Homo sapiens: one gene and its partners. The main gene of each other region encodes a partner of the protein of the gene in region 2 in a complex. Each region holds a gene or a part of one and is shown on either strand. Other genes may lie near its edges.

The links.
Region 1: SNW1 (region 2) and SCNM1 share a complex: the UniProt entries of both Homo sapiens proteins name them as parts of the minor spliceosome.
Region 3: SNW1 (region 2) and CWC22 share a complex: the UniProt entries of both Homo sapiens proteins name them as parts of the minor spliceosome.
Region 4: SNW1 (region 2) and PLRG1 share a complex: the UniProt entries of both Homo sapiens proteins name them as parts of the minor spliceosome.

Annotation. Positions count from the first base shown.
Region 1 is NC_000001.11:151,162,244-151,169,143, reverse strand, and holds the start of SCNM1 (sodium channel modifier 1), read right to left. Parts: upstream 3,001-6,900; 5' UTR 2,992-3,000; coding exon 2,941-2,991; exon of another isoform or gene 2,892-2,940; intron 2,674-2,891; coding exon 2,603-2,673; intron 2,211-2,602; coding exon 2,122-2,210; intron 2,024-2,121; coding exon 1,926-2,023; intron 1,819-1,925; coding exon 1,730-1,818; intron 1,001-1,729; coding exon 806-1,000; intron 159-805; coding exon 59-158; 3' UTR 1-58. Other genes in the region: TNFAIP8L2-SCNM1 protein, read right to left, coding at 59-158, 806-1,000, 1,730-1,818, 1,926-2,023, 2,122-2,210, 2,603-2,619; LYSMD1 (lysM and putative peptidoglycan-binding domain-containing protein 1), read left to right, coding at 3,886-4,065. UniProt on the Homo sapiens protein: As a component of the minor spliceosome, involved in the splicing of U12-type introns in pre-mRNAs. Plays a role in the regulation of primary cilia length and Hedgehog signaling.
Region 2 is NC_000014.9:77,737,153-77,744,179, forward strand, and holds part of SNW1 (SNW domain-containing protein 1), read right to left. Parts: intron 1,910-7,027; coding exon 1,814-1,909; intron 1,733-1,813; coding exon 1,626-1,732; intron 1-1,625. UniProt on the Homo sapiens protein: Involved in pre-mRNA splicing as component of the spliceosome. As a component of the minor spliceosome, involved in the splicing of U12-type introns in pre-mRNAs.
Region 3 is NC_000002.12:180,004,276-180,011,450, forward strand, and holds the start of CWC22 (pre-mRNA-splicing factor CWC22 homolog), read right to left. Parts: upstream 3,023-7,175; 5' UTR 2,592-3,022; intron 1-2,591. UniProt on the Homo sapiens protein: Required for pre-mRNA splicing as component of the spliceosome. As a component of the minor spliceosome, involved in the splicing of U12-type introns in pre-mRNAs. Promotes exon-junction complex (EJC) assembly.
Region 4 is NC_000004.12:154,547,379-154,554,416, forward strand, and holds the start of PLRG1 (pleiotropic regulator 1), read right to left. Parts: upstream 3,023-7,038; 5' UTR 2,931-3,022; coding exon 2,922-2,930; intron 1,558-2,921; coding exon 1,451-1,557; intron 476-1,450; coding exon 333-475; intron 1-332. UniProt on the Homo sapiens protein: Involved in pre-mRNA splicing as component of the spliceosome. Component of the PRP19-CDC5L complex that forms an integral part of the spliceosome and is required for activating pre-mRNA splicing.

The DNA of each region.
Region 1 (6,900 bases), on a different chromosome or scaffold from region 2:
GAAAGTTAAGTTCTCAGCACCCATTGTAATTTATTTGTGAATGAATGGGAAAAGGGTATCAGTCCAAGGGGAGATCAGGTGGTTCCTCCTCATCAGAGTCAAACTCAACATTTTCATCTTTTACCCATCGACCTCGTCCATCTGGGATCCATCCAGAGCTGGAAACATCAGAGAAAATAGCATCGATCAGGAAAGAGGCTTATTAAGAAGTTAGTGGTGAGCTCACACCAGTAATCCCAGCACTCTGGGAGGCCGAGGCAGGTGGATCACTTGAGGTCAGGAGTTCGAGACCAGCCTGACCAACATAGTGAAACCCTGTCTCTACCAAAAAAAAAAAAAAAAAAAAAAAAAAAGTTAGCAGTGAGAAAAAATTGAGAGCCATGTAAGTTGGGTGGCTAAAACAAAACGAAACCAAAGATGGAAAACAACAATGGGAGTCCGGGTGCGGTGGCTCACACCTGTAATCCCAACACTTTAGGAAACTGAGGCAGGTGGATCACCTGAGGTCAGGAGTTCGAGGCCAGCCTGACCAACATGGAGAAACCCCGTCTCTACTAAAAATACAAAATTAGCCGGGCGTGATGGCACATGCCTGTAATCCCAGCTACTCGGGAGCCTGAGGCAGGAGAATCGCTTGAACCCAGGAGGTGGAGGTTACAGTGAGCCGAGAGCGTGCCATTGCACTCCAGCTGGGGCAACAAGAGTGAAACTCCATCTCAAAAAAAAAAAAAGGAAAAACAATAGCTTTGAAACAAGGGTGTCAGAGAGAAAAGAAAATCTGAGGAAACTGATTAGGCATACTCACCTTCGAAGGGTGAGATAATGGTCCAGGGCTCGTCTTCTTGTGGGGCTCATGGGTGCAGGGGCTGAGACAGTTGCTGACTCCTCGGCCTGTGGGCCAGCCGCAGGTTCAGGTTCCCTACTGATCTTCCCACTTTGGAGTTTGACCTCTGAGGGTGGCATAGGGGAAAGGGAGACAGAGGGACCAGGGGCTTCTGGTCTAGGTAGAGAAGAATAGTCTGTAAAAGCAGTAAGGGAAAGGGCCAACTCTCCTATGACTCCCAACCTCTTAAAACAGTGCTTCTTAAACTATATTTCTCAAGATATTAATAAGTTCTGCATACAAAGGATTTCAGAATCATGAATTTGGGAAAGGCTAGCTTAAAATTTTACAAGTTTTTTTTAATCTTAAGACTTTGTATAGTTTTTAAAACTGTTATTCTTCAAGTAGAATTACAAAGTGCCATTTCCCAAACTTTATTTAAAAATCACAAAATTCTCCTTTTCTTTTTCTTTCTTTTCTTTTTTTTTTGAGATGGAGTCTCACTCTGTCACCCAGGCTGGAGTGAAGTGGTGTGACCGTGGCTCACTGCAACCTCTGTCTCCCGGATTCAAGCAATTCTCCTGCCTCAGCCTCTTGAGTAGCTGGGATTACAGGCACACACCACACACCCAGCTAATTTTTTACATTTTTGGTAGAGACAGGATTTCACCATGTTGGCCAGGCTGGTCTTGAACTCCTGACCTCAAGTGATCCACCCACCTCAGCCTCCAAAAGTGCTGGGATTACAGGCGTGAGTCACCGCGCCCAGCCAAAATTCTCCTTTTCTTGAAACACTAAGTAACATCTCCAGAACACTAGTATTCCTCAGAATACACACTGGAAAACTCTTTTAGAGCCATCTGTCTCCTTCTGAGCCTTCCTACCTCTGGCTTTCCCGTCCCATACCTGTACTTCCGGCGGCAGCAACTGTTATAGTGGGGAGCTCTGTGCAGAGCACTCTGGGTGATAAGTCGTGTCTGAGTTAGCAGAGGAGCCTGGTAAGGAGATGGGAGACAGAGTCAGAGCCTTCAGCCCTCCGCCCTTCCAGCCTGGTGTGTGCAGCAGGGTCTTGCCTAGAACACACTCTCCACTCTCTGATTACCTCAGCTTTGGTTTCTTCCCTTCTCAATTCATTCTGATGTTTTGGATTCTGCTTTCTTTCCTTTCCCGGCTGCTTCTTGCCATAGAAAAGCTGCAAGCCTGAGGAGAAAGGGAAACAGAATTAAAAGCATAGCACCAAGAGTGGTGTGCAGAGATTTCGAGGGTTTATTCCCCATCCCGTCTTCCCCCTAACTTACTGGACAGATGTTTCTTGCCTGCACGGTGGGCAGTCAGCATGGCCAGGGTGTCCAGTACCGGTCGATGGGGGCAGATGGCACAAGCAAAGCTGAGCAGGGGTAGAGAAGAGGATAAGTGGTCCAGGGGAAGAGGGTTGGGCCCGTCCCTGCCATAGGTCCCACCCTGTCCTAGCAGTCTTTGCAAAACCCAACTCCCTGGTGACCCAATCTCCACTTCTTCCAGTCCTCACTGGCCGCCAAAGAATCCTAGGTACTCCTGCTGTCCTAATTAATAACAAAAGTTTGTTGAAGCCAGGCGTGGTGGCATGCGCTTGTAAACCCAGCTAATCGCGACGCTGAGGAGGCAGGATCACTTGAGCCCTAGAGTTCGAGGGCAGCCTGGGCAGCACCGCGAGACCTCCGTCTCAAAGGAAAAAAAAAAAAAAGTCTATTGAGCCTCTAACCGCAGAACCCTCAGGCTTGAGCCACTCCTTGCTCTTACCGTCCATCCCGAAGCATCAGCGCCTCATCCTCTGGAATGTAACTGGCTAGGAGGTCCCCGACTCTTCTTTTCTGCAGGGAGTAGGGGAAGAAATCCGGACGGGATCAGCGGGATAGGAGAGAGGGGTGGAAGTGAAATTATAGAAATGAGGAGTGAAATGGAATAAGGACCCTGGGGAGAACAGCGATCATAGACCGAAAAAGGAGTCACTACACAGCTCTAAGTCGCCTGGTTCTCTCCTGCACCCCCGAGTTGTTGCCAGAGCAATGAAACAAAGCTCCTTCCCAACCTTCAGGGAGCGACTGAAGCGGCTCCAGATCCTCTCCGCTCACGCTTACTTTGAGCACATTGAGTTGACTCCAATCGTCTCCTTCCCTCTTGAAAGACATCACGACTGTGAGTCCCAGAAGTGATAAATTCTCTGTTCCGGTTTCGCCACTCCTCCAGGCCACCGTAGCAAGAGCGGGACAGCGCCTTCTCTTTTTTCCTTCTCTTCCTGTCGGCCTCCGTACTTCCGGGGACGCACTTCCACGCATGCATTGCGCGATCCGGAAATCCACTCTCTGGTGCTCGGAGGGAACTGCATTTCCTATGGTGCCCTGCGACTCCGCAGACGCGGAGCCTTTTGGGAAATGAAGTCTTTTCTCAAAGACCTTGCCGCTCAACTGGATCCAGGCCCTTGCATCTTGGCGGATCTGAGGCGTTTGGAGGGACAACAACCTAGATGTGGAGCCGAAATTTGAGGGTGTGACCTATCTTATGCGGAGCGGACCTTTGAGGATCTCTGAGTGGAAGGTGTACTACAAATTCTTGCAATCCTCACGCTCTTCGTCTGCGGCGACAGTTCACCTGGGGTGGGCCTGATTTGTTCCTGACTCTAGCAAACAAACCCCGGGACCGGGGAGAGCTGGGATGTTGGAGCGCCCTGAGGCCAGGCTACTTGGGGGCAAACTGAGGAAAGAGTGTTGAGGATTATTTCTAGAGTTCAAAGGTCAGAGGTCAATGTAGCGAGGAGTTGTGGGGGAGTCCAAAGTCGGAGGGGTGCTTAGGGGAGAATTAGGGAGGGACTGAATACTCAAGGGACAGATTTGTGGATAAGTAGCTTGGAGGGAGGAGAAACCGGGAGGGGGCAGATGGCGTAGTGCTGGGGAGGCGGGGACACAGGGGAAGAGAGAGGGGGAAAGGAATCCCCTGAATATTCATTCCCAGACTTCAGGCCTGTCAGTCGCAGTCTCGGTCGTACCTCCCCTAGTTGCAACCTTAGCTGTTGGCAGGGTGAAGAGATGGCTTCCCCGTCTAGACAGCCCCCGCCAGGGGGGTCAGGACTGCTTCAAGGGAGCCGGGCTCGTTCATATGGAAGCCTGGTGCAATCGGCCTGCTCCCCAGTGAGGGAAAGACGCCTGGAGCATCAGTTGGAGCCCGGAGACACCCTGGCTGGACTAGCACTCAAATATGGGGTGACGGTGAGTTTTCCAGGATTGGGGTGAAGACAACAGTCAGGAGGGATTTAGTCCTGAGAAGAATGTAGTGGCCCTTCTAGGTAACCTCCCCTGAAATGTTCCTAATGTGTTGCACTCTGTTCTGCCTTTATCTTTGTTTTCCCATCACAGTGTTGCACAAGTCCTGCCCTACTATTCCAACGGAGAGGAACAGCTCCTATTTTATTATGCCAGACACTGTGCTGAGGGCTTCACATACGTTAGCTCATTTCACCCTCACATCTGTATCAAGTATACATTTATCGTTCCCTTTTGGCAGATGAAGAAACTGAGACTTGGATTGGTTAACCAGTTTGGCTAAGGTCAAATAATGAGCGTCAGATTTGGGATTCAAACAGGTCTGTCTGACTCTATTAACCACACAGAAAATTTTATGTTGAGAGTGATTAAACGTTTACAGCAACTAATGGAGAGCTGATTTTTAGTTCTCAGTTCCTAAAGTGCCCACCTCTCCTTGCTCTTGGTTCCTCCTCAATGCTCTGCCTTCTTTCCAGTAAGGTGGCCTCCTTTGTGCAAAACAGGTACTCTACACCAAGTATTTCAGGTCATGCATGGGGGAAATTGGATAGATGTAAAAATGTACAGCATTGAAGTTGATGGGGTTACTCCCCCTATCCCTGCCCCTGTTTTCTTGTTCCATCTCACTCAAACAAATGTTGAATTTAGCCAACATTTTTATGCTTGCTGTATTTAAAGCACTGTGATAACTTTTCTGGGAGATAGAAACTTAAACTATATGGTTGCTGTCCTCATGTAATTTATGGCCTAATGAGAAATGAACAGGGACACAAATAATGATTACAAGTGACAGAATGTGGTGAGTTTGTAAAGGTATTAACAACGAATAGGGGTCAGGCATGGTGGCTCACCCCTGTAATCCCAGCACTTTGGGAGGCAGAGGCAAGTGGATCACCTAAGGTTACGAGTACGAGACCAGTCTGGCCAACATGGTGAAACCCTGTCTCTACTAAAAATACAAAAATTAGCCGGGCGTGGTGGTGCTCACCTGTAATCCCAGCTACTCAGGAGGCTGAGGCGGGAGAATCGCTTGAACCCAGGAGGGGGAGGTTGCGATGAGCTGAGATCGCACCACTGCACTCCAGCACTCCAGCCTGGGCAACAGAGTGAGACACACACACACACACACACACACACACACACACAAAGATAGGAAATCAGAAAAGATTAAATTTCAGTTGGAAAGGGGCTGTGGTGGGCCAGGCGTGGTGGCTCATGCCTGTAATCCCAGCACTTTGGGAGGCTGAGGTGGGTGGATTGCTTGAGCTCGGGAGTACAGGACCATTCTGGGCAATGTGGTGAAACCCCATCTCTACAACAAATACAAAAATTAGCCGGGCATGGTGGCATGTGCCTGTAATCCCACCTACTGGGGAGGCTGAGGCAGAGGATCACTTGAGCTGGGGAAGCGGAGGTTTCAGTGAGCCGAGATCGCGCCACTACACTCCAGGCTGGGCGACAGAGTGAGACCTTGTCTCCAAAAAAAGAAAGAAAGAAAGAAAGAAAATACGAATACACTATATCTGTAGTTTCTATATTTCATTATCTAATTATGATAATAATTACATAATTATAAGTAATAGTTTTTAAATAAAGCATTAATGAGCCCCTGCTATGTGTCAAGGTCTGTAGGATGCTAATGACTTCCTGGGGATACAGAGACAGCAAGTCACAATCCTTGCCCTTAAAGGACTTATAGGGTTTAGGCAAAGCAGATATTTAAAGAGGTGAATAATATTATAGTAGGGTTATGTATTATTATAGCAATATTTACAGTATGCATTGGGAGCCCTGAAGAAGGTAGCACAAAGGGAGTGATAGTTGATGAATACAAGTTTTCCAAGCAGAGAATGGGATAGTAGGGGGGTGGGAGCATTTCAGGCAGAAGTAACAGCATGAATAAAGTGTGAAAAAGATCATGGAATGTTCAAAGAAAAATAAAAAGTTCAGGATAGCAAAATGTAGAGGTGGCAGAGGGAGATTAATCTAGACATTTCCTTTGGGAGCTGGATTGAGAAAGCCCTTGAATGCTAATTTGGTTTTTATCTTTTAGCCAGTGCGGAGCCATAGGTGGGTAGTGGGTTAATCAGATTTATTTTTTTAGAAAGATAGATGCCAAGAGGAGGATGAGTAGAAATAGAGCGAGGAAGGCCAGTTAAACTGTTGCAATAACCCCAGATGAGAAATACTGAGGGTCTATTTTAAATCTTTGGCAGTAGGAAGGTGAGACCAGATGTGAGAGAGATTTTTGAAGCAGTTTTGTTGACCACTTGGTATGGTGATGAAAGGCAAGTATTAGTTAAGGATGACATTGATGTTTCTACCTTGGGAGGCCAGGCAGATAGATGGTGATGCCAGTCACTATGTCCAGTGATGAATAAATAGGTCAAAATAAATATTTATTAATGACATTGTTAATAGTATAGTGTGAAAAGCATTCTCAGAAGCAGTGAAAAGACCCAGGATTGTCATTCTAGCTCTGTCATTAACTTGATAGATAATTTTAGGAAAGTAGCTTAACCTCTCTGAGCCTCAGTTCCTTCATTTTTATTTATTCATTAATTTATTTATTCATTTATTTTTAATTTTTTAATTTTTAGAAATGGCGTCTCACTATATTACTCAGGCTGGACTCTAATTCCCGGGCTCAAGCTATCCTCCCTCCTCAGCCTCCTGAGTAGCTGGAATTATAGGCATCAGACATTGCGCCTGGCTTGCACAATAATTTTTTAAAATGTAAGGGGGCCCTAAGACCAAAAAGTGTGAAAACCACTCATCTAT
Region 2 (7,027 bases):
AGCTAGACTACATTTTCAATTCCTTTCGCAAAGTATTAACAGAAAATTAACAAAATATTTAGACAAAGCAGACAGCAAGAGGGATAAAAGAACATAAATTATGAGTTACAGTCAAAATATAAACTTGAGTGGTATTAGTTTGCAAATAACCCATCCTCATATGTTTTCCAACATGGAAGGTGCCGTGTTCAGTTTCACAGATAAGCAGTCTAGAAAATAGTACCTATTTAGTATGCCTGCATCTGAGGAAAAAACACTCATAATAATCCCAGCAGGCAACTTACGGTTAGCAGTTTTTGATTAATCATAGGTTATAAAACAGAGAAAAGAATAATGACAGCAGCCCTACCAGCTCTGAATTTTTCCTCAATATCTGTATGTGATTCAATTCTCTATGCAGATTTAGTCAAGTAAAACGCCTCAAAATTTAGAAGTATTATAAAGATATCTATTACTTATAAATGGAAAACTATAAATAATAATTGTGATTTAGGTCATATACCACAAGTAACTGTTAATTTCTAAAAACAAAAAATATAATTTGAAAATAGCATAGGGCCAGGCCGGGTGGCTCATGCCTGTAATCCCAGCACATTGGGAGGCCGAGGTGGGCAGATCATCTGAGGTCAGGAGTTTGAGACCAGCCTTGGCCAACGTGGTGAAACCCTGTCTCTACTAAAAATACAAAAATTAGCTGAGCATGGTGGTGCAAGCCTGTAATCCCAGCTACTCAGGAGGTTGAGGCAGGAGAATCGCTTGAACCCAGGAGGCAGAGGTTGCAGTGAGCCAAGATTGTGCCACTGCATTCCAGCCTGGGTGACAGAGTGAGACTCCATCTCAAAAAAAAAAAAAAAAAAAGAAAATAGCATAGGCTGGGCACAGTGGCTCACGCCTATAATCCCAGCACTTTGGGACCTGAGGAGGATGGATCATTTGAGTTCAGGAGTTCGAGACCAGCCTGGCCAACATGGTGAAACCCTGTCTCTACTAAAAAAAATACAAAAATTAGCCAGGTATGGTGGTGGGCACCTGTAATCCCAGCTACTCAGGAGGCTGAGGCAGAAGAATCTCTTGGGAGGCAGAGGTTACAGTGAGCCAAGATCACACCACTGCACTCCAGCCTGGGCAACAGAGCAAGATTCTGTCCCCCACCCCAAAAAAAAGCATAAAAAGAGGCCAAGTCTGGTGGCTCAAGTCTGTAATCTCAGCACTTTGGGATGACAAGGCAGGAGGACTGCTTGAGCCCAGGAGTTCGAAAACAGCCTGAGCATCACAGCGAGACCCTGTCTCTACAAAAAATTAAAATATTAGCCAGGCATGGTGGCATCAAGGCAGGAGGATCACCTGAGCCCAGGAGGTGGGGGCTGCAGTGAGCTGTGTTGGTGTCACCGTACTCCAGCCTGGGCAACACAGAAACTTTATCTCAGAAAACAAACAAAAACCAAAGTGGACACCTTAAAAAATTCTGCTTTCAATTGTCTGCAAAGACAGTAGACAGGCTTTGAGTCATTATTGAAAACAATGCATTTATAATGGTTGCTAAGTGGGTTAGTGAAAGAATACCATGACCCCCCAAGCTGAATCAAGTTCAGAATGAAACTAAGTCTTCTAGGCATGATTCATACCGGATATACTGAGCAGGAGCCAATTTGTCAGCTGCTCGAACTGGCATGGCTGCGGCGACCTTCTGTGATACAGATTTTTCTAAGGCTACTCTTGTCTTTTCTGTTATCTGAAATAGGAAATATCACATTGAGAGTTTGGAAGTTAATCAGGATGTAAATAGTCATCGAATATATCAATTCCCAGTTACCTCTTTAATAGCTTCTTCATCGGGCCTTTGCAGGTCTGGATCATCTGCATTCATAACCTCCTTTGGAACCAGGTCAGTGTATTTGCTATAAATGACCTAAAATGTTCAAACACAAGCAGGCTTAAGAAAAGCAAACAACGAAAAGAAACCTCATTAGCCATTTCAGATGTCAACATGCCCTCTCAGCACACTTAAAAATTTAGGACACTCAGATTTTCTCTTTTAGATTTTAAAACCAAGGAAGCTTAAAATATATAAACAAATTGCTACCCTGGCTGTAAGTTAGTAATTTTCCCTTGACCTCATGCATTTAAATTGTTTGAGATCTTCTAATCAAGTTAGTATCCAAATAAACCATGCCAACAAAATCATGCATTGATGATCACTATTTTTGAGGCCCACTAAAACTTGAAATTAATGATAATACAAATTGCCTATAGCACCATTAACCTGGATTACAAACTCATCAGAATTTAAGTCAGGTTACCAAATAATTTCCAAATTCACTGGGCCTGAAAAATTTTATTGACCTCATCCTATTTATAACGCTTCTCTTTTCTGCCATCAACTCTATTCACAGACTAAGAAAATAAACATGTGCCACAGTTAAAAAACCCAGAATGCTTTCTTCCATGAGAAGACAAAAGAAAAAAAAAAAGAAAAAGAAAAATATATTCTATATATACAACTTATTTTATATCCATTATCCAAATTGAGGCCTGTTATATGACTTCTACTATGCCCAACATGGTTTCTATTAGGCTGACACTGATGTGGTAGGCTCTTAACAAATAGAATACTGGTTACTTTCAGGTCCATCTATACTTCTTAAATATTTTCATAACAATTTACATGGCATATTTTAAAGTAAAAAAGAGATACAGAGGGGCCGGGCGCGGTGGCTCACGCCTGTAATCCCAGCACTTTGGGAGGCTGAGGTGGCTGGATCATGTGGTCAGGAGATCGAAACCATACTAGCTAACATGGTGAAACCCCGTCTCTACTAAAAATACAAAAAATTAGCCAGTTGTGGTGGCAGGCGCCTGTAGTCCCAGCTACTCGGGAGGCTGAGGCAGGAGAATGGCTTTAACCCGGGAGGAAGAGCTTGCAGTAAGCCAAGATTGCGTCACTGCACTCCAGCCTGGGTGACAGAGCAAGACACTGTATATTAAAAAAAAAAAAAAAAAAAAAAAGAGAGAGATACAGAAAATTCAATAAATAATAGGCATTCTACCTTTAATGCTTTAGTCAGAAATTCTTTGAGGTACATAAAAAGAAAGGACAACTTATAAATATCAAAGAAAATCAAATTCCTAGGCACTTGAGATCTCCAGAATTTTTTTTTGTAGAACTGTTTACCACTACAAGCCAAAGTCTTATATTAATAAGTCTATCATACATCATTCATTAAAAAAGTTTAAAGGAAATGCATGCTATTTCTAATTTTCTACTCCAAACAGAGCAAAAAAGTGTGAGCCACTTTATGGCTTATGCAACTTGACCTGACTTTGCCTATGCCTTCAATCTCCCCTTACAACTCTCACTCTCTCACTCATTATGCTTCAGTCACACTAGCTCATCTTCTGTTTCTTGAACATAACATACTTTTCCCCAATTCTAGGCCTTTACAGAGTTCTGTTTATCATTCTTCAAGTAAGCTCTCAATCTGTGTGTCTCAGATCAAAGGTCCTCCATTATCGAGGCTTCTTCTGATTGCCTTAGTAGTAACCCCTCCCCACCCAATCATTTGCTCCATAGCACTGTTTACTGTGATCAAGACTGTTCACAGCATGAAATTATCTACTTTACATGGTTATTATCTGTCTCCCGTATTAAAACAATAAAAACGGGGAGGGCACGGTGGCTCACGCCTGTAATCCCAGCACTTTGGGAGGCCGAGGTGGGTGGATCACCTGAGGTCAGGATTTCAAGACCAGCCTGACCAACATGGTGAAACCCCGTCTCTCCCAAAAACAGAAAAATTAACCAGGCATGGTGGTGGGTGCCTGTAATCTCAGCTACATGAGACGCTGAGGCAGGAGAATCGCTTGAACCCAGGAGACGGAGGTGACAGTGAGCCGAGATCATGCCATTGCACTCCAGCCTGAGCAACAAGAGTGAAACTGTCTCCAAAAAAAAAAAAAAAAAAAAAAGTGTCTCCTGTGCTTTATAATAATGACTGGAGATATTTGATCAATATTTTTTGTACAAATGAATAAATAAATGAATTTTAGAGATATTCTGTTACATGCTAAAGGTGTTTATAGGCCATGAACAGTGACTCACGCCTGTAATCACAGCATTTTGGAAGGCCAAGGTTGGAGGATAGCTTGAGCCCAGGAATTCGAGACCAGCCAGGGCAACATGGCAAGACCTATCTCTATTTTAAAGAATGGATGGATGAATGAATAAATAAATAAGTTTATATTTTAGGCCGTACAGAACTTTCTATAAGCTACTGATTTCCCAGAAAAAACTATCTCATGGCTATACACTAAAATCTCCAGCTTGTTTTTCTCAGGAGTGAGAAGAGGGATCAGGTAAGAAAGCCTAAGATGATTTAGCACAAAACACGTACTACTGATATGTGAGTTATTAGTGTCACCATACTCTAAGAGTGTTGATTTTGGAAGGGACCATAAAGCTCACTCTACTGAAAAGAGTGAGGTTCAGTACATTAAGATCATACAGCTACTATCTGACCTCAAAAGTCTTATTTCCTCTCAGCATGGAAAAACCTATACAACCCTAAGCTGAAAATTATATAACAACACAAGAAAAAAATACCAATTCTATGAAGAGTTAATCATGAGGAGTTTATCACTTCTCCATAGCAACGGTTATAAGGAAAGGATTCTAAGTAAATGGCTCCCTGGTAGTCATGTATGTTCAACATAAAGTGTCAATACTAATTTAGCATACAAGAGTCATTTGCTGCTCCTTATTTGGGCATTCCAAAGTTAATAACCCTTCAAATGAGCATCAATAAGATTCTAGTATCTCACAAGGCTGAGTGAAGGACATCTGAAGAGCAAGATTCCTCCATAGTAATTAATTATAAAACCCCCCATTTTTTTTTTTTTGAGACGAAGTCTTGCTCTTGTTGCCCAAGCTGGAGTGCAATGGCGTGATCTCAGCTCATAGCAACCTCCGCCTCCCGGGTTAAAACCATTCTCCTGCCTCAGCCTCCCTCCCAAGTTGCTGGGATTACAGGCGCATGACACCACGTCCAGCTAATTTTTGTATTTTTATTAGAGATGGGGTTTCACCATGTTGGCCAGGCTGGTCTCGATCTCCTGACCTCAGGCGATCCACCCGCCTCGGCCTCCCAAAGTGCTGGGATTACAGGCGTGAGCCACAGCACCTGGCCAAAACCCCAAATTTTTATAGTCTGAGAATTAAATGTGCTGAGGAAACTGAGTACCAGGAGGCAAATGGGCTGGGGAGCGTTTTCTGAAAAATACAATATACTCTTGAAAGTATCAGAAGCACAAATAAGCTTTGTCAACAAGATAAAGTAGTAACTCATCTGTGAAACAGATATTTTATTACAGAAAACTGGCAAAGAACTAGACTGACTAAAAGGATAAGCCTGTCAAAACATTCACTATGTGAGGTAGAAAGAAAACGCTAATCTAGCTTAGCTAGTGTGTGAAATCATACAAACAAGATAACATATAATTTATCATGGGGTCAGTTTAAAGTTGTTACGGTTTTTTAGGGGTAATACGTTGAAGGCATTCTTTTGGGTATAGTACGTGTGTAACATTTCGTTTCTTTAAGAGATAGGGTTTCATTATATTGCCCAGGCTAGTCTCAAACTCCTGGCCTCAAATGATCCTCCCACCTCAACCTTCCCAAAGTGCTGGGATTACAGGCATGAGCCAATGCACTTGGCCTGTATGTAGTATTTCTTACATAACTATTTCAGAGGGAAAAATACATACACCAAGCCCTTTATTTCAAGATTTATCACTTGGCTGGGTGTGGTGGCTCATGCCTGTAATCCCAGCACTTTAGGAGGCCGAGGTGGGTGGATCACCTGAGGTTGGGAGTTGGAGACTAGCCTGACCAACACGGAGAAACACTGTCTCTACCAAAAATACAAAATTAGTCAGGCGTGGTGGCACATGCCTGTAATCCCAGCTACTCAGGAGGCTGAGGCAGGAGAATCACTTGAACCCGGGAGGCAGAGGTTGCGGTGAGCTGAGATCGTGCCATTGCACCCCAGCCTGGGCAACAAGAGCAAAACTCCGTTTCAAAAAAAAAAAAAGATTTATCACTTTCATAATTAGGAAAAAAAAAGCATTTGGTTGTATCAAGATTTACACTAAAAAAAACTTTTTCATCCCCAATTTTGTATGACTAATAAGTCGTATACACAGTACTTACTTCACATGTAGAGAATTGCCTTAGACTTGTCCTAGAATATTACGTCTTAGAATCCTCACTGATTCTTCTCACCTCTTATACCTAACACCTAGTATTTTCCATTCTTACTCATTCACTATTAATATTTCAGTGAGAACTCCCTCGTTTCTGAAGAATACCAGACCTCTCGGAAGCAAATCAGAAATCTTAGTCCAAATTCATAAATCCAATAACCTGTTCAGTCTCTGGAATAACAAATTTTTTAAATCCTATTTTATATATTATGCAGTCCATTTCTATTTCTTCTAAAACAGGAAAATCAGTGATTGTCAAACAGGGCATCACTGCCACCTCTAACTCCTCTCTCCCAGTGCCTTTGTAAATGTGTGAGGTGTTTCTAGTTAAGACAATGGGGGTAGGATGGGGACGCTACTGGGATTTATAGGTAGTGCCACTTATGCTAAACATTGTACAATGCTGAAGATGGTCCTAAACAATCAAAGTGCTCCCCCAGTGCCAATGGCACATAATAGTTACTTGATTAATGTTGAATTACTCAATGCATTCCAAACTTCATGCATGAATCTATCCACTTCTAGAAAACAAACAAACAAAAAGATATAAACCTGAGAGTGGTCCCAGTTTGGGGTTTGTTTCTAGTGGCTGCATTACAGACAAAAGCAACGATCTGGCCGGGTGTAGTCGCTCATGCCTGTAATCCCATCACTTTGGGAGGTTGCAGTGAGCCAAGATCGTGCCACTGCATTTCAGCCTGGGTGACAGAGTGAGACTCCATCTCAAAAAAAAAAAAAAAGAAAAAAAGAAAATAGCATAGGCTGGGCA
Region 3 (7,175 bases), on a different chromosome or scaffold from region 2:
CTGAAATACAAAATGCATCACTGTGTTGTCTTTTGGGTGGTCTCAGGTACAAGCCACTGTAGGTCATTCAACAATGTGCAATCACTGGGAAGGAGAGTTAACTTCTTTTTTTCTTCTTCTTCTTTTTTTTTCTTGAGACAGAGGCTCACTTTATCGCCCAAGCTGGAGTGCAGTGGAGAGAGCTCAGCTCACTGCAACCTCCGCCTCCCAGGTTTAAGTGATTGTCGTGCCTCAGCCACCCGAGTAGCTGGGGCTACAAGCGCACAGCACCACACCCTGCTGATTTTTTTTGTATTTTTAGTAGAGACGGGGTTTCACCATGTTGGCCAGGCTGGTCTATCTCAAGTGATCCGCCCGCCTTGGCCTCCCAAAGTGCTGGGAATGCAGGCATGAGCCATCGCCGCCCCCGCCCCTCGCCCCCCTCCCCCCCAGGAGAGTTAACTTCTAAAAATTCAGCAGCTGGGAAAGCTAACAGAGCTAAGAAAGCTGGCTTAGAAAAACAATTAGGTAGTCTAGGAAGTGTCAGAACTCCAAAAAGTGATTGGAGGTACCCTATCCAAAGCAGGGAAGGATGTGGTGGAATAATAATAAATACTGGCTGGCCATGCATCCAAGTACTTTGGAGCAAGGAGGGCAGCAAACATGATTCTGAGGACGGGGGAGGATGAATCATAGCATGCCCCTAAAGGATGAGCCAGAGCAGAAGTTCTCAAACTAATTGGCATGAGAACTACTCGAATGCTTTCGGAAAAAAAAAAAAAAAAGACAGACAGACTGTTGGGCCTCCATTTCCACGTTTCCGATTCAACAGAACTGGGTGAAGCCCAGTAATTTACATTGCTAACAAGCTTCAAGGAGATGATGCTGCTGATTCAGAAGACATTTTTGGAACCAATACACCAGTGTATTAGATCAAAGTTCTTGGCCTTTAACTTATAACCAAGACAGTCTCAGAGCCCCAGTCAACTGAGTTGGGAAAGACTCCATTAAAGTGGCATGGACACTTAAAACTAGGACACTAGCCGGGAGCGGTGGCTCACGCCTGTAATCCCAGCACTTTGGGAGGCCGAGGCGGGTGGATCACAAGGTCAGGAGACAGACACCATCCTGGCTAACACAGTGAAACCCCGTCTCTACTAAAAATACAAAAAATTAGCCAGGCGTGGTGGCGGGCACCTTAGTCCCAGCTACTTGGGAGGCTGAGGCAGGAGAATGGCATGAACTAGGGAGGCGGAGCTTGCAGTGAGCCGAGATAGCGCCACAGCACTCCAGCCTGGGCGACAGAGTAAGACTCCGTCTCAAACAAAACAAAACAAAACAAAAAACAAAAAACAACTGGAAGGACACTTACAGGTGGAAAGGCAACATTCAGAACCAGAGAACAAGAATTGAGGAACAGAGAGAACTCATCAACTGTATCATAGTAGTAATTTACAATAATACAACGCTAACGCTGTGCTCAGTGCCTCATCTGCATTATTTTTCTTTATACTCAAAAAAAGACAATACAGTGAGGCAGGTATTGTATTACTACCTACATGTTTCCAGATGATGAAGCTGACACTAGAGACTTTAGGTAACTTGCTCCAAGTGACAGACCTAATAATAGCTGGATAAAACAGAAATCTTTGGTCTACTAGTCCATCACCCAGGACCAACACAAGTGGCTTTCCTCCACCTACTGATAACGCCTGTAACAATGCTTCTCCTCTCCTGGTCAAAACCACACTTTTAATGTCAATTTTAAATCTGCCCTTCCATAGTAGGATGATAATTTATGTTAACTCCTGAATTCACAAGCAATCCTAAAACAAGGTAAGTCTAAATACAGATAAGAGGTAGGTTAACTGATCTGCTGAGAACCAAGTTTGCTTGCTTATCTGCTATTTCGAGTCTCTGCACATCTAAAAATGCAAAGGAAACTCTTACCTAATTCTTGCATCTAGAATAGCCTTTCTCCAAATCCTGCCTTCTCCACTTACCTCAGAAGAATTGTTAGGATTAAATGGAAATAGGTACCGTGGTTTTTGCAGTTAAACTCAGTGAAATTAACTATTATATTTCCGTTATATAATGCTGTGTTGTAGGACCCAGAGCTCGTTAGAGAGGTGGAGCCTGGAGACCCAAGTTTGGCAGTTATTACCTCACTGGAGATAGTTCAAGTTATGGAAGGATCAAGAATGACAGATGAAGCGGGCACATGAGAAGCGAAGTGTCTTCAAGACTAAACACTAGACACTATCAGTATTTACAGGGCAAATAAATGAAAAAGAAGACGCTAATGAAATTTAAAACAAATAGTCAAAGGGATATAATGCCGGCAAGAGGCATAAGAGTGCAAGTAATTCAACTAACTTTTAATCAACTAGATCTCATTAATCCCACTCCCCTGACCCTGGGACCCGGGCACTAGGAAAGGGGCTTTGGCAAGCCCCAATGGACTCCAGAGGCTCTAAGTATAAAACGCAGTGCACAAGAAACAACACAGCACCAGCGTTGGTGCAGGATTTCAGACAGCTCCAGGAACTTCACAAGGAAGGTCAGCCGGTCCGCTCAGGCAGTCAGTTCATGGCAGCCCATTCCCTCCCCACCTGCTTGGACCTAGCCGCTCTCACACCCCTCTTGCGGGCCCGAGCGTAGCGAGAAGACCCACGCACACTCCAATGCCGCTCACAGCCGTATCAGTGAGCCCGCACCCACTCCTGGGGGTCTTTTACTTCCCACCCGATCCGGCGACCCGCCACCCCCACTCCGCGTCTCTGCCTGCGGGGACTCCACGGAGTTCGATAATTACCTAGAGCTCCACCGCGCCGCCATTACACCGGACGTACGTCACTTCCTCTTCCCGAGCACCGACGGTAGGAAGAAGGCGAATAGTGAAATATTTAAAAACTTGACGCTCAATTGGCTTGACACGTTATCCCTTTAATTTATTTCAAATACCATATCATAATACCAGAGTCAAAGTAGTCGATCCAGGCACACTGTCTTGTTGCCAAAATGGCGACAAAAAAGAGAAGTTGGCATGAACTACAAAGTCCGAAATCCAGCGCCTGTGCTGACGGAAATGAGGAAAGCATAATTGTAGTTTAGCGTGAAATGGCGCGGTGTACGATGGGAATTGTAGTTCATACAGATGCGCGCCAGCGAGTTAACATCCACGCTGCTCACTGGCAGCCTAGTAGTGTTCAGGGTCTAGCCGAATTTACTTTAAAACTATTTCACTGCATTTTGGGGAAATTTTTTTTAAAAAAGCAGTCAGTTGTCACTTTCCTTGAAAAATCTTAAGAGAGAGATTTTCCTGAGACTTTATAAGAGTTTGACCAACAGTTAAGTGCCTAATAAATTCCAAGATATCCAGGCCATAAGAATGGGAGAATATTAAATCATAAATAGAGTGAAATAATGAGGAAAAACTAATTCTATAGAGACTGTGTTGCCTCTCTTTTAGGTTAAGGTACCAACTGGTATGACCTGAGAATAAAGAGATTGCCTGGCTGAGTAGGAAGTAGCAGTTTGTACAGCGTGCAGAACTAGGGCATCAAACAGTTTCTTTAAACTTCACTTTTCACTAGTAACAAAACCTAAAAGTTCAACTACTTGCTATTTTGGAAACTCTCTTCCTAAACCAAGAATATCTTTATGTTATCAAATCTTTCATAAACCAGGACTGGTTTCTCCACACACTTCTCTATTACAGTTTTAGGGTGCTGTGCTTCCACTCCTTTCTGGAGGCAGAGTGTGATGATTAAGAATAAAAACACTGCAGTTGGACTACTTATTTTGAATCTTGAGTCCTTTTATTATTTATGGATGACTGGGGCAAGTAACTTCACATTCTGTGGCCGTTTCCTGATCTGTTAAATGGAAATACCAATAGTATCCATCCAGGCAGTAGTTTTAAGAATTGAATTAGTTGATACACAAGATGCATTTAAGATAATTGCTAGTATACAATAGTGTTATCTATTTTATTTCATATTTAAGATATTTGGCCATTGTTGATGGTGCATTTTGGTGCACCAATACAGGGCACAGGAGATGGATCTGGAGATGAACATTTGTATTCATATATTTAAAAACCCACAATACTACCGGTGATGGTTAATTCTGAATGTCAACTTGATTGGATTGAAGGATGCAAAGTATTGATCCTGGGTGTATCTGTGAGGGTGTTGCCAAAGGAGATTAACAGTTGAGTCAGTGGACTGGGGAAGACAGACTCACCCTTAATCTGGTGGGAACAATCTAATCAGCTACCATCGAATATAAAGCAGGCAGAAAAATATGAAAAGGCAAGACTGGCCTAGCCTCCCAGCCTATATCTTTCTCCCATGCTGGATGCTTCCTGCCCTCAAACATTGGACTCCAAATTCTTCAGTTGTGAGACTCAGACTGGCTCTCCTTGCTCCTCAAGCTTGCAGACAGCCTATTGTGGGACCTTGTGATTGTGTAAGTTAATACTTAATAAACTCCCCTTTTTATATATATATCCTTATATATAGATATATATATTAGGATATATATATAAGGATATATATAAAAAATAGGATATATATGTAATAGGATATATATACGTGTGTGTGTGCGTGTGTGTGTATCTATCTATCTATCTATCTATCTATCTATCTATCTATCTATATCCTATTAGTTCTGTCCCTCTAGGGAACCCTGATGAATATACTACCTCTACAACTATCAACAGAAATAGGAAAGTTAGGGTTGAGCAGAGGAGAACTAGATGGAGCTGGAAAAGAATTGGATTTGTCAGTTGGGTCCTTCAGGAAGCAGACACTGAGAAAGAGTTATGAATAATAAAGGTGAAAGGAAAATGGAGGAAATAGTAGCTCCAGAATAAAGATGAAGAGGCCTACAATGGGATGAAATGGCTAGGCCCTTGTACCAGTTTTGCTCAGTCACTGGCTAGAGCCACCCCAAGAAGAGTGTGGCCTCAACTAAAAACCCAAGGTGGACATGAAGATTCAACAGTTGAAGGCTGTCACCTAACCACACTGCTTGCAGCTAGGCTACAAGCAAGTCCTTTCTTGAAGAGGTATCTGAGCAGCATCTCTCTGTGCCTGTCACAGTCTCCATACACCCAGTCTCCATACACCTTTCAGGAACAACTTTTCCAGGGTTCTAGTGCACATTTCTTCCTAAAAAAAATTTAGAAGTGGCAAGTTAGTGAGACAAACTACACTCCCCATCTTTGGGTCCTGAGGCCACACTGAATCCATTGCCTCTCTTCTCCACTATTCATTCTAAATTTCCCTTGCTGTCAGCTACTGCTCTACTGCTCTCTATGGTAAACTGGTGGTGTAAAAATCCTAATTCCTGGGAAGTCTGAGCGCCTGGTAGTGATCTTCTTTTCAGGCAGGTGCTGCTGCATTTTTTCATTGATGGTCACTATAAGGTAAGGGATTACCAAGAGATGCTAAAGTGGATCGCCTAAGTACCACATATATTCTTACTTGCTCCCATTGTGTAACAGCAAGCGTATCTCCTCCTGCTGTTTGGATTTAGCTACCTCTGACAAAGCATTGATTCCTTTCTTGCCTACTAGCCCCTGAACTCTAGAAGTCCTGTGTTTCCAGGCACCTGCTGAGCTTAGTTCAGTGGGACACTGTGTCCCCTAGCAAGAATATATCACCTTTGGGGATTAGGACCACCAATTCCACAGAGCTCAGAGTTGCAGGAATGGGAAATACTATGTCCCACCGCAGGTCATTGGGAAAAATGGTGAGTTAGGTTACATTCCTGTTTTCATCCCTTGTTTCCTGGATCCAAGTGTTGTTCTTACTAGGGACCCTGCATCCTGAGAGACAGTACCTCATTCTTGCAGAATATTGTCTTCTAGCTGATACTTTAACTGAATCTTCAGCAGGTCATTCCAGTGCTCTATTAGGCCACCAGCTTCTGGGCATGCAGCATGTGATACATCCAGTGGAACCCATGGTCACAGGCTTGTACCACCTTTGCTATGAAGTAAGTCCTGCTTGGATGTTATGTTGTATTATATTCCACACCTGTGGATCAAGCATTGTGGAAGTCCACAGATACTGGTGCTGGATGAGTCTTGGTGAGTATAAAATGTGAATGCATACCCCAAATAAATATTCCCATAAAATTGAACTGCTAGAATGGAAAGATCTCAATGTAGTCTACTTACCACCAAGTGTCTACTTGATCTCCTAAAGATACGGTGTCAAATTAAGGACCAGTCTCACAGGTTAAGCATTCAGATGAGGCAGTAAGTAAGTAGATCAGCTGTGGTAAGAGGGCTTTGTGCTGATGGGCCTGTGCACATATTCCATTTTTGCCACCCTGGCCATTTTGTTCATGTGTCAATTTTACCAGCACTTGAGGTAGCCACTAATAAAGACAGGTTGACATCAACTGAGTAATTTTTCTACTTTTTTTTTTAGTGCTTACTCCATAGATTATACTTTCTTGTGGACATTGATGTGTGATAAAAATATCTTCACACTTTTTGCTCACACCAATGTGTATATCCACATTCCTCCAAGACCCTCAGGATTCTTTATTTGTGATCTTCTAAACTCATTATTTTCAGGCCTCTGACCAGCCAGCCAGGATGTTTGTCATTTCCTGTAAGTATATTTATATTCTAACCCCGGGCAACTTCTCCCTCTACAGAAAGTGGATGACAAGGTGCATCATCCAAAGCTTTGCCCACTAGGAAGACTGTTTCTCTTCACTGTCTTCAAGGCTATTCTTTAATGAGATTGTAATATAAGCTGCTGCCCAATTTCAGCTTTCATCCACATACTTGGGCAACCCATTCGTAAACTAAGCTCAGCCATTTTTTTTCTTTCTTTAGCTTATTGATCAAGACCACACCTCTGCTCCATATGGTCACCAATATGAGCTGAAGGAGTATTGATGCAACTCTAACAGTGATGTAAGAGTGTATGCTGTCTAATCCTATAGATTGATTGTGATCTTCTTTGTGCTTCATCCCAAATGTAATTCTTTTATCTTACGATGGATTACAGTTCAGCTTCCCAGAACTTATAACCTGGTGTGTCCAACAAGCCAATTTTTTTTTTTTTAGATGGAGTCTCGCTCTATCGCCCAGGCTGGAGTCAAGGTACATTTTGTTTTGTGTCACTTAGTGTCCCACAGTAAGCATTTCCTCTTTACCAGTAGCATTA
Region 4 (7,038 bases), on a different chromosome or scaffold from region 2:
TTTAATTTCATCTTTCTGAATTACAGACAAGATAGATGGTGTCCTCACAGGTTAAGAATATTCTCCAATTTTTTCCTTTAATCTCTACTGTGACCTTCTCCACACTCTAAGAATCTCTGCCATCATTATACTACCATTTTTATTTCCTATAAGAAAAAAGTCATCAACAGTATTCCCATGAGGATCAAAACTTCCATTATAATACAGGTACGGCCATTAAATACTGTACGACCACAATAAGTCCTGCCAGGAGGGGCAAAAATAACATATTTTATTTTTCTGTTTTTAAAATTCACATATAAGTCTGACATTTCTGATAATACCATACTCACCTTGATTGGCAGGGTACTGTTTATGAACATATGAATCCGTTGCATTCTGAGGACCCTTCTCTTTAAGATTTTCTTTTGAAGTAGGCATATGCAACACAGGACCATACTCATTACGAAGCTTGATTGCCATTTTTCGTTTGTGACTATTTAGAAATTATAAACATAAGAACGTATCCATAAATACTTTAAAACAAACACTTAGCTTAAGTTTGCCCATTCACGTAGAAAAAGTTTCTAGTATGATTTTAAGTAGTATTTAAAAGAATCAAAAATTTCCAAGGGCATTTCCCCACCATATCTGTTCTTTTGCTTACATTCGACCACACAGCATTCATTAAACCTACGTAATATTTTAGTTTGTTACCTAATAAATAGAAAACCTTTTATGATAAATTGTCAAGGGTCTGACTGAAAGATATACAGAAACTAACATACCCTTTAAGAAACCTCAAAGTCAATATACTTTCCTTCAAAATATAAATATAGTAAAAACTCTATAGCAACCTTTACTAGATGTATCCAAACAGGTTAGTTAGAACTAATCAAAGTACTTAATTGGTTCAATATCTTAAAAAGAAATGCATTTATATTACTTTTAAAAATAGTCTACTTTATAAATTAAATATAAATGCTTGTTTGAGGAGTTAAGTAGATTTTAAAAAGGTAAAGGACAAAGAAGGAACACTGCACATAATGCATTCCCAGACTGGAGCTGGATATGTAGAACCAAAAATATGCCACCACTCAAAAATCTTCATCATACTAACGAGAAAAGATGGGAGTAGAGGTACTAGCCAGGTACAATTTCAGCTCAGCAAGGCTCTGAGAGCAGCGGGAAGCTGAAAGCACATACAAAGTGATTGATTATAAAATAAAATACCTAAAAGGGACTCTCTTAATTACTGGGTATTTGTAAAATGCAATTAATTAATGGAACTTTTACTGTAAAAGGCCAAAAAAAAAAGTTAAATCAGCTTAAATTATGCCAAAACACCACTCATTATTGAATAATTAGCCCATGACTAGCTTATCTTTAAAGGACTCCCTCTCCCTGCTCTCTTCCCCTAGTATTAGAATGTTAAGTATTTTAGCAATTGAAAAAAAAAAACTACACCAACCTCTCTTCATCTAAAGGCACAGGTTTTCCATTATCAGCTACAAACATGTCATGGGTCCTCTTCAACGACCTGAACACAAGGGTGTGTACAGAATGTTTCTGTACCTCCTAAAAAAAAAGAATGTAATTACACACCTATCTACAAATTACACAAATCATAACCTAAAGTCAGATTGATTATACACTTCACGTGTTTAAATATGTAAAAAGCTTTATACCACTCACCATAGCTACTTGTTGCAAGCTACAGGAGTCAAGTTCAGAGAAGAGGAGGAAGCTCCTCTTTGGCTAGAACCTCAGGTTTAGCAACTGAGTGATGCCGGAGTTTAACTTACTCAATAAATATTTACTGAGCTCCTACTGTGTGTCTGGCAGGTATTGTGCTAGAATCTCACAATAGAATGATAAAAAGGTGGTCATGGTCCCTGTGCTCAAGAGGAAACAGACAAATAAAAAGTAAAATAATTCCACATTTTGATAAGTGCTATGAAGGCAACAAGCAAGGCGCTGAGTCAGGGAATGAAGGACTAAGTATAATTGTGAAAGATTTCACTAAGGTGATATTTAAGCAGAAAGGGAGTTAGCCTTGCACAAAACAGAGGTAAGAACGAACCAGGCTGATGGAAATGTCATGTAAAAAAAAGTTCAGTTAACTGAAATAATACAAGGAGCGCAGTACAGCTGTGTATGGAGGATGAGATGGTGCTTTGTAGCTGCAAGGGTAGACAAGGTCCAGATTAGGTAAGGTCTTTTAGACTATTACAACAGCCTATATTTTGTTCTAGCAACATAGGGTCAGTAAAGGGTTTTAAACAAGAAAGGTATGAACAACTTACGTTTTAAACAGAACAACTTATAGAACAAAATGGAAGCAAGGAAACCAACCAACGGGGAGCTAATGCACCAGTCCAGGTGAAAGATGATGTTGGTCTCAATTAAGGTGGACTGCAGCGGATATGGAGAAGAGTGAATGGAATCAATAAACATGTGGGGTAAGATGGACAAGACCAGCTAACAGCGTTGGCTGTTCATGCCAGGGAAAGATGTAAAGAACGGCAAGTTTTTCTGGGGGTAGAGGTGAAATAAGAGACGACCTGAACGCAAGATAGAGAAGACTACCAATCTTTTAGGGCACAGACTCACTGACACTGCCCCGAGGGCGGCAAGTACCAGTGGTCGATCACCAACAGAGGCCCCGCCTCCGAGGACACTTTCCAGCTCCCAAGAGTCAAACGAGGACTGGACGAATTATCTCAGGCTTCGCGCCCAGGCTGAACCTCCGACTCGGGTTCTCATCCGGCTTCTACCCCTTCCCCGAAAACCCGAAGAAGAGACCACTCGGCCTTGGCCAAATAGCTCCCCTCGTAGCCTCTTTTCTCTCTGGACTCCAAGTACTCTCAATCCCCCACGCGCACTGCCAAAAAAAACAGTCCAGAGACAAACGACTCTTGAGAGCCCCAGTGTCACTTTACCTCGACCATGATGCTACCGTGTATCCCACCTCCGGCAGGGAAGAAACTCTAATCACTAACGCAGTACCCGCCGCCACAGCTGTGCAGCACCTTCCGGAATTGGGCGCCCAGGCGGCGGATGTGATGCAAGCTCTGCGCACGCGCGCTAGTCTCCCTCGGCCATCTAGGATCAGGAGGCGGGTCTCCCTCCTCGGGACCGCCTCTAGGGCGGAGTCTCGAGGCTGAAAGCCGGAGACTCCTGGAAGGGCCTGGGTGGAGGGTTTCACTCGTCCCTCTGAAGAAATCTTAGAATTATGTTTTCTGCCTTAGTTGGGGTCCTGGTTGTTCGTGCTGTATTCCCCGGAAGCTTAACGCTTTTTATTCAGAGAACCTAAGCGTCTGGAGAGCAAACTCCCGTGGGCTCTATCTAAGGCATTTCCACTACCTTGATCTCTTTGGAGGTCGCCTGCGTGCTTTGTGTCTCCTGGTTCTAATCCTGGCGAGAAGCACTTGGACACTTGTAGGCTTAACACCTGAAAACAATTTCGCTTAAACAGTCCAGTAAACACTTGTTAAGTGAACGTTGAGGAATAGCTGTTTTAATTTGGAAAATTTTGACATGTAGTTATAACAAAACCCCATATTTATTTTCTGCTAATAGATTTTTTTTTTTAATTTCTCAAAACTGCATAGCTCTTGTCCATTTCCTAGTTGCCTGCTGATTATTGTGGCTTCAACAATGCCAGGGTACAGCTTTTCAAAGCTGGTAGAAGACACAATTGGAGACTTTAGCCATTTTTATTTATACATATCCTTGTGCCAAGTATTGGTATTTTTGCTTTCTACCCTGGTAAAATCTGTGGTTTGTGATCAACCCTACCCAATTATTTTTCTATGTAAAAAAAAAAATGGATGGACTTAGGCATTTACAAACTTAAATAGACAAACATTTTACTGGCCCTGTTTCAGTTTCACTAATCCTGTCCTGAGAGCATACTGCTTACACTTTGAGAGGGGGAAAAAATCTAGCAAAAGAATAGCAATATAAATCAACCTTACTTGGAAATTCATTAAAAACATTAAGGTCATGGGTTTTTGTTTGAGACAGAGTTTCGCTCTTGTCGCCCAGGCTGGAGTGCCATGGCGCGATCTTGGCTCACTGCAACCTCAGCATCCCAGGTTCAAGCTATTCTCCTGCCTCAGCCTCTGGAGTAGCTGGGATTACAGGCGCCCGCCACCATGCCCGGCTAATTTTTGTATTTTTAGTAGAGACAGCGTTTCACCATGTTGGCCAGGCTGGTCTTGAACTCCTGACCTCAGGTGATCCGCCCGCCTCGGCCTCCCAAAGTGCTAGGATTACAGGCATGAGCCACTGAGCCCTGCCTTAAGGTCATGTTTTTACTTGAAGATACAGCATCTCTGAATTTAACTGTGAGTTTGGCCTAAGAATTGCTTTTCTGTAAAGGTGGCAGGTGATGGTATTTCCTTGCAAGAAAATACCATAATTGTAAAATATATACTTGATGAACTAAATAATATACTCACCTATTAATAATAACTATAGAAAATAACATGATTTGAAATGACAATAAAACCATAGAAACCTAAGCAAGACTAATATATATGGCAATATATTAATTGTCTAGTTGGATCTATTAACTTTTTACATATTTAATCATCCTGGAGACATTAATTTAATTTCTCAATAACAACATGGTAATGATTGAGGTAAATTGCCTCGAATTTGCTCCTTTTAAAACACTGTCGTGAATTTATAGAATGATGTCATCCCCTTGAAAGTTTACAATATTTTAGATAAATATAGAACTCAAGTGACCCTATTATTTAGTTCAGGGATTCATGAATTATGTATATTGTAGGAAAATTTTGTATTTATATGGGAATATGTTTTATTTTCTGGAGAAAGGATCCACAAGTTTAATTGGATTCCTGAAAGGCTCCGTCATACACACATGGCCTGGCTGACACCCGAAGCTGCCTTATTTGAACAGCAGGTGTCACCACTGCTCTTTGTACGGGCCCTCAGGGCTGTCCTTAAAGCAGACACGGCAAGTAACTTATTAATATAAATTATTAGTATTATGTCTGTGTAAAACCAAGAATACAAGTTTTAAGGAAAGCCCTCCTTCTTTAGGCAAGATTTTTTAAACTCACCAATACAGAAACTCTTTTTATTCTCCTTCAAATATTGTCCTTTGCTCTTGAACAGTGATAGGTCATATGAGTATAGATTTGAGTGCCATTTTCATCAGCTTTTTATGATATTTTTATAGGAAGTGTTTTCTGATTCTTATAAAATAATAAATATTACTATTTATTTTTCTGTTTCAACTTAGAGGGTTAAATATACAAGCTTTAAAAAACACTATATGCAATGTTCTTTAGAGTTGTGTGGCTCAGTATGTCCATCCCTTAAATTTCATATTTGAAATTGTTCGTTAATTCAAAAGGAAGTAATCATGGGAGTTATCACTGTTTATTTGAATTTCTGAGGTCAAAACCTGTGAAAAATGATACTTGGACATTTCTTCCAAAACTTTGGTCTTTAATTGTTTAGCACAATGCTATGAATTTGCCTAAATACTAAGGTAGTGTTAGCAGATACTTTCTTGTAGCATAGTTGAAACAAGCTTCTGGGACTATAAGGAACAGTGAAGGGGCTGTTCTTCCTGTTAATGCCTGGAAAGACTTTGGGAATAATTAGATTGTACTATCAGTTATAAACTGTCAGTTATAAATATCTTAGCAAGGTGTATGTGTGTGTGTGAGAGAGAGAGAGAGAGTCCTCGGGTCTTACTTATCACAATTTCACCATCCTCTACTACATGAAGCCCCATCTCATGTGTATTAGTTTGCTAGGGCTGATGTAACAAAGTACCACAAACTGGATGGCTTAGACAACAAATGTTTATTGTCTCACAGTTCTGGAGGCAAGAGGCTTGAAATAAAGGCGTTGGCAAAGTTGGTTCCTTCTAAGGGCTGTGAGAGAGAATGTGTTCTATGCCTCTCCCCTAACTTCCAGTAGTTCTCTGGCAGTCTTTGCCGTTTCTTGTCTTCTGCTGCATCACTGTCATGTCTGCCTTCATCTTCACATTTCGTTCTCACTGTGCATATGCCTATGCCAAATTTCTCCTTCTTAAAGAACATCAATCATATTGAATTAAAGGCCCACCCTACTCCAGTATGGCTTCATCTTAACTAATTCCATCCAAAAATACCCTATTTCCAAATAAGGTCACATTCTTAGATACTGGGGGTTAGGAATTCATAATGTGAATTTGGGGGGACACAGTTCAACCCACAACACTATATCACAAAATAAGTGACAATATTGAACATAATCATGACTTTTGTTGTTTACCTTTACAAATAAGAATTTGTACTTACAAATATTTGCAGGCATTTACAAATGTTTTTATTTTACAGAAATATTTTTGGTGTTTATACTGCCACAGAAGAAATAACAATGTCTTGGTTCCAGCTTTCTTAGCTGAATGTTTTGTTGTAATATTTGTTTAAATATCTGTATTTCCCAGTAGACTTATGGGGTGAATATGGCATGATGTTTACTATCACACAGTCAGAATCTAATTGACTTGCAACTGGTAAGTTTTCAATATTTATTGAATGAATGAATAAGTAAGCTATTATATTGTACACTTAAATATGGGTTTAGGTGGCTTTGAGAGCTTAATTTTTTTTGAGACGGAGTCTGGCTCTGCCGGCCAGGTTGAAGTGCAGTGGCACCATCTCAGCTCACTGCAATCTCTGCCTCCTGGATTCAAATGATTCTCCTGCCTCAGCCTCCGGAGTAGCTGGGAATACAGGTGTGCACCACCACGCCTGGCTAATTACTTGTATTTTTAGTAGACATGGGGTTTTACCATGTTGGCCAGGCTAGTCTCGCACTCCCGACCTTAGGTGATCCACCTGTCTCAGCCTCTCAAAGTGCTGGGATTACAGGTGTGAACCACTGAGCCCAGCCGAGACTTTAATTTTGATTTGGAGTTGCAGCTACTGAACATGTAGGAAGGATGGTCTGTGAGTGTGTGTGTGTGTGTGTGTGTGTGTGTGTGTGATGTGCTCACTCCGAAAAGTTGCTATTTCAGTAACCATT